Linked DNA regions of Homo sapiens: region 2 is linked to region 1. A link means that fine-mapping ties the variant in region 1 to the expression of a gene that starts in the linked region. Tissue or cell type: prefrontal cortex. Region 1 holds a variant in brackets; the other region holds the start of a gene. All regions are shown on one strand. Distances are between the middles of the regions.

Region 1 (2,648 bases):
CCTGGCTGGACCTTTGAGAGCATATCCCCCTCGTCCCCCTCTGCCTGCCAGGCAGGTTGTGGCGTTAGTCACATCTCTGGCCTCCGGCTGGACCTGAACTATTGGCCAGGCCAAGCCTCGTGCCCCACCCCTACACTAGGCCCCTAGTCCACATGGAGTCCACGTTCAAGAATAAAGAGTGGGGCCAGGCACGGTGGCTCATGCCTGTAATCCCAGCACTTTGGGAGGCCAAGACAGGCAGATCACTTGAGGTCAGGAGTTCGAGACCAGCCCGGCCAATATGGCAAAACCCTGTCTCTACAGAAAATACAAAGATTAGCTGGGTGTGATAGCAGGCGCCTGTAATCCCAGCTACTCGGGAGACTGAGGCAGGAGAATCCCTTGAACCTGGGAGGCGGAGGTTGCGGTCAGCTGAGATTGCGCCACTGCACTCCAGTCTGGGCAACGGAGCAAGACTCCAACTCAAAAAAAAAAATGAGCTGTATGTATGTAGGGGCAGATGGTGACAAGTGCCAAGCAGACATGAAGACATGAGGGGCGTGTGACTTCAGAGTCGGGGGCAGCCTGAGCAGGTGGCAGAAGAGCCATGCAGGTACCTAGGGGAACAGCATTTCAGGAGGGGGGAACAGCTAGTGCAAAGGCCCTGAGGCAGGACAGAGCTTGGCATGTTGGAAGAACAGCAGAAAAGCCCACAGGCGGAGGGAAACAGGGCGCTGTGAGGGCAGCCAGTGAGGACTTGGGCTTTCCCTGAGTGGAACAGGAGCCATAGAGGGCTGCAAGCAGACGAGGAACAGGCCAACAGCGTCGCAGCCACCTTCTCACCTCTGTGGGGTGAGGAGGAAGCCAGGATACCAGACGGAAGAGGGTAGTGGTGGTAGTGGTGGTGGTGGCGGGGAGCGGGGGGCAAGGCTGTGCAGATGCAGAGAAGTGGCCAGATGCAGGGCCACCTGGATGTGTTGTGGGGGACTCGGTGTGGGGCAAGGGGAAGGTGTGTTCACCTGTGCCCCTGAAGTTCAGGTGCAGGTGTTCGGGAGCCAGCGCGGCTGCTGCAGGACTCATCCCTGCATCCTGCACCTTGAAGGCCAGGTGTGGGGACATCCTGCGGGCTAGGATGGAGGGGGGGTGCAGCAGTGCCTGGGGAGATGGCGGTCCTAACAGAGGTGACCAGTGTCTTCCTCGATGGCCTTCAGTGGCTTTGGGCACAGGGCCTTGTCAATGAACAGTGCATTGGAAAGTCACTTATGGTGGTCCCAATGATGTCACAGTCGATCCAGATTGGGAGTCCCTCCCACGTTGGCACCCACTCCTGCAGCCTCTCTGCAACTCATGTATTAACCTGATGTTGGGGAGCCCCCCCCCC[G/CG]GGTTCCCCAGGGTCACAGCAGCAAGTGACCCTCAGAGAACCCCCTAATCTCAGCAGCCCCCATCACACCTTTGTCCCAGTAGCCCGCTGTGCAGACCTGCAGAAGAAGATGCCTGGGAAGTGCCCAGGGTACCCGCGTCCAAGCTGGAACCCCATTGCCAAGCTCCTGGTGTAGGGCAGAGAGCTGCGTCTCCACTAGGTGCGCCTCCCAACGCCCTGGCGTGGGCCGTGTCCTTTTGAAGAATGAGAATGTTTCATTGAGCCTACGCCTCCTGAATGCGGGAGGGCCACGGGATGGTCCCAAGACTGTGCCAAGGCGTGCCAGGCCTCGGGTCCTTGAGAAGGAGCGAGGGCTCCAAGAACGGTGAGGTCGGAGCGGGCCGGGGCGATGGAGCGGGAGCGGCGTGGCGTGCTGGAGGGCCGGGAGAAGCGGGGGTCGCCAGTCGAGGGGACTGCCTGCTAGTGTCCCCCGTGCCCCCCGTCACGGGCACGGCGCGGTGGGGTGGGGGAGCGGGGGGCGCGCGGGGCAGGCATGGGGGCGCGACACGGCGGTGCGCGGGGTCTCTCGGGGTCCAGGTCCAACGGGCCCCCAGCTCCGGCCCCCGCGCCTGGGTTTCTCTGCTGGGAAACGGGCAGGGGCGCGGGCCCGCCTCCAGGGCGCCCCGCGTCCCCGCTGGCCGCCCCCCAGCCGCGCCCCCAGCGGGGCGGAGCTTGCGCCGGTCCCGCCCCTCCGCCCTCCGCTCTCCCGCCCGCGCGCCCCCGGCCCAGCTGCGGCGCGTGACGCGGGGCGCGCGGCTCCGTCGGCTACCGCGGGCGGGCGCAGGCGACGGGCACGGCGGGCGAGCGGGCGGTATGGCGGCGGCGGGGCCCGCGGCGGGGCCGACGGGGCCCGAGCCCATGCCGAGCTACGCGCAGCTAGTGCAGCGCGGCTGGGGCAGCGCGCTGGCGGCGGCGCGGGGCTGCACGGACTGCGGCTGGGGGCTGGCGCGTCGCGGCCTGGCTGAGCACGCGCACCTGGCGCCGCCCGAGCTGCTGCTGCTGGCGCTCGGCGCGCTGGGCTGGACCGCCCTGCGCTCCGCGGCCACTGCGCGCCTCTTTCGGGTCAGTGTGGCCGGGGGCCGGGACGAGGGGACCCCGGACTGGGGGAAGCCGGGACCGGGGACCTGGGGCCGCCGGCGCGTTCCTTTCTTCCAGCGCTGGCTGCTGCGGATGAAGGGGTCGCCGGAACGTGGGTGGGGGCCTCGGGCTGGAGAGGCCCAGGACGTTGGAGCCCCAGGATAAGGTCTCT
Region 2 (2,678 bases), 43 kb before region 1:
ATCCCAGATGTCCCTCTCCGTCTGTCTCTCTGTCCCCACCCTCTGCTCCCAACCCGACCCCACGCAACCCCCCCCCCCACTCCCCCTCCACCGCCCCTAACCCCCTCCCTCAATCCTCCGTCCCTTCCCCAGTCCCGGCCCCCGCCCCTCCCCCTTATCCCCTCCCCCATACCCTCTCCCAGTGCAAAAAGCCGGCAGGGGGCGCAGCGGGGCGGCCTTGGCGGCCCGGGGAGGCGGGGCGGGCGGCGGCCGCGTCGGGACCGGCCGCGATGGGACCGGAGGCGGCGCGGGCGGCGGCGGCGCAGACAAAGGCACGGGCGGCGTGGAGGGCGGCGCGGAGGGCGCGGGCCCGGGAGCCAGGGAGCGAGCGGGGCGCCCGGCAGCGCGGAGTCAGCGCCGCGGGGGCCGCACCCGACTCGCGCCTGGACACTCGCGGGGCGCCGACCTGGCAGGGTGAGCCCGGCCTGCCGAGCCTGCGCTGGGAGCGCGGGGGCCTCGAAGTCCCAGGGCCAAGGGGAGGGCGTGGGGGTTCCCCAGAAGTTTCGGACCCGGGACTGGGAGCGGCGCGAGGGGTCCCCAAGTTCCAGGGCTGGAGGGAGCGCGGGGGTCCCGAAGTTCTGGATTCAGGGTCTGAGAGGGGACTGCGTGGGAGGTTCCCAAAGTTCTGGACCCGGCGTTGGAGGAGGCTGCGAAGAGGTCCCCAAAGCTGCGGACCTGGGGTGGGGTACTGGGGTGGGAGGGGTCCGGACGTCCCGGACCCAGGGACTGGAGGGGTGGCAGGGGGTCCTCGAAGTTTAGGAGTCTAGGACAACGCGGAGGACCGGGGTCCCGGACCCAGTTAGAGGAGGAGTCACGAAGGGAGTCCCCGGAGTTACCGACCTGGGGTTGGAGGAGGCAGAAGAGGTGTCCCCCGAAGTTCTGGACCCAGAGACAGGGGGCGTCGCGGGAATCTCGGAAGTTCCAGGGTCAGAGCCCGCGTCCCGGAGTTGGGGCGTGCACTGGGTGTCCTGCCTCGGGTGGGGATGGGATCCTGAATTAATATTAACCCCCCCGTCCCCCGCACTCGGGTGCATGGGATGGGGCCTCATCCACCGGCCAGATTGGGGATCCCGGGCACCGGGCGGTGTCGGACCCCCCTCCGGGAGCCCCGTGGCCGGCGGCATCCGAGGCGCATGACTAGTTGGTGAGTAACTTTCCCCAAACGCTGCAAGTCGCAGCAGGAGCTGCCGGACCGGAAGGGCCTGGGTTCCGGGGACCCCTGTGTTCCCCAACTCCCACCCGGCGCAGGACCCGCCCCCAGTCCAGGCCAGAGCTGCCGCCCCACCCCCACTCAGGGGCTCCGGTTTCAGACCCTGTGACCAGGACAGCAGCTGCCCAGGACAGGATAGGGGGGGCATCCCCCCTTTGACCACAGAGGCCGCTGGGCCAGGGCCTCCCCTCCCCCACCTGTCTTCCCCCTCCTCCAAACTCCTCCTTGGTCCCCTGCAGATTCGGGGTTGCTGAATGGCCCAATGGGGAGGTTGGGGAGCCCTGGTCTCCCAGTGTGGATTCTGCTCTGCCCTCATGGTGGGCATTGGGATTGGCTGTTTGTCTACATCTTGTCTTTTTAACTTGGCTGGGGGCTCCCTGGGGATTTGGACTCTGGACTTCAAGGTGTGCTTCTGCCCTAGGGTGGGAGCTGCTGGGGGTGGGGTCCCTCTGCAGGGTGTAGTGGGGAACTGGTCTCCTGGTACTACACACCTCTCAACGCCCCATTTTTTGGTGGAGAGCCCCGCTCTGGCCAGTCATGGGTGAATGTGGTGGAAAGAACTCAGCAGAGATTTGGCCTCCACAGCTCAGCCTGGGATGGAGGGGACTTCACGGGGGTGCAATAACCAGGACAATGAGAAATTTACATCTGGATGTCAGCGGCCACCAGGCTCCTCTCAGAGGGCCATCTCCTGTACAGGGTGTTGTGGGGGCTTCCCCTAGACAAAGAAAGATGGGGTCTGCTTGCTCTGAGTTATCTATAATAATTATCTTACCTTTTTGTTTCTTTTTATAATTTCTTTCTTTTTTGAGACAGGGTCTCACTCTCTTGTCCAGGCTGGAGTGCAGTGGCCTGACCATAGCTCACTGCACTGCAGCCTTGACCTCCTGGGCTCAAGTGATCCTCCCACCTCAGCCTCCCCAGTAGCTGGGACGGCAGGCACATGCCACCACACCCAGCTAATTGTTTAAATTTTTGGTAGAGATGGGGTCTCGCCATGTTGCTCAGGATGGTCTCGAACTCCTGGGCTCAAAGGATCCTCCTGACTCAGCCTCCCAAAGCACCAGGTGTACTTTGGGCCTCTCCTGCCTTTTTGATTGAAAGTTCCATGACGGGCACACCTGGTGATGGGTCCTGAGATGGAACCTGCTTGGCCTCCCTCAGCCTGGCCTGAGGGACACTCATAGTCCCTCCTCTCTCCCTAGGGGCCAAACCAGTGCTCCTGCCACCTCTCTGGCTGCCCCCTAGAGCCTGCCCATCCCAGCCTGACCAATGTCCACAGCCAGGTGAGCTCCCACCTCCCCCAGCCTGGCCCTGAGCTTTCTAAGTGGGGGTGCCTGGCCCCCACCAAACACCCTCTCCCCACGCAGGGAGCAGCCAATCTTCAGCACACGGGCGCACGTGTTCCAAATTGACCCAGCCACCAAGC

Which allele goes with the higher level. Positions count from the first base shown, and alleles are read on the strand shown. Sizes are in standard deviations (SD) of each study's normalised expression.
With allele G in place of CG in region 1, the expression in prefrontal cortex of the gene that starts at base 1,250 in region 2 is lower (moderate effect, 0.48 SD a copy in ROSMAP).

What was found. PIP is the estimated chance that this variant, and not a neighbour inherited with it, causes the effect.
Region 2: it holds the start of HOMER3-AS1, and the variant in region 1 is fine-mapped to the expression of HOMER3-AS1 in prefrontal cortex (ROSMAP, PIP 0.95).

Annotation. Positions count from the first base shown.
Region 1 is chr19:18,895,637-18,898,284 of GRCh38, reverse strand. It overlaps CERS1 (ceramide synthase 1), which reads left to right and starts at 2,127. Exons shown (of 8, transcript NM_021267.5): 1 at 2,127-2,461. The coding sequence starts at 2,213. GDF1 (growth differentiation factor 1) reads left to right here and starts at 2,127. Exons shown (of 8, transcript NM_001492.6): 1 at 2,127-2,461. The variant G/CG (reference allele first, on the strand shown) is at 1,361.
Region 2 is chr19:18,938,826-18,941,503 of GRCh38, reverse strand. It overlaps HOMER3-AS1 (HOMER3 antisense RNA 1), which reads right to left and starts at 1,250. Exons shown (of 3, transcript NR_134913.1): 1 at 880-1,250. It overlaps HOMER3 (homer scaffold protein 3), which reads left to right and starts at 287. Exons shown (of 10, transcript NM_004838.4): 1 at 287-453; 2 at 2,455-2,535; 3 at 2,620-2,678. The coding sequence starts at 2,522. RefSeq lists a silencer at 124-323.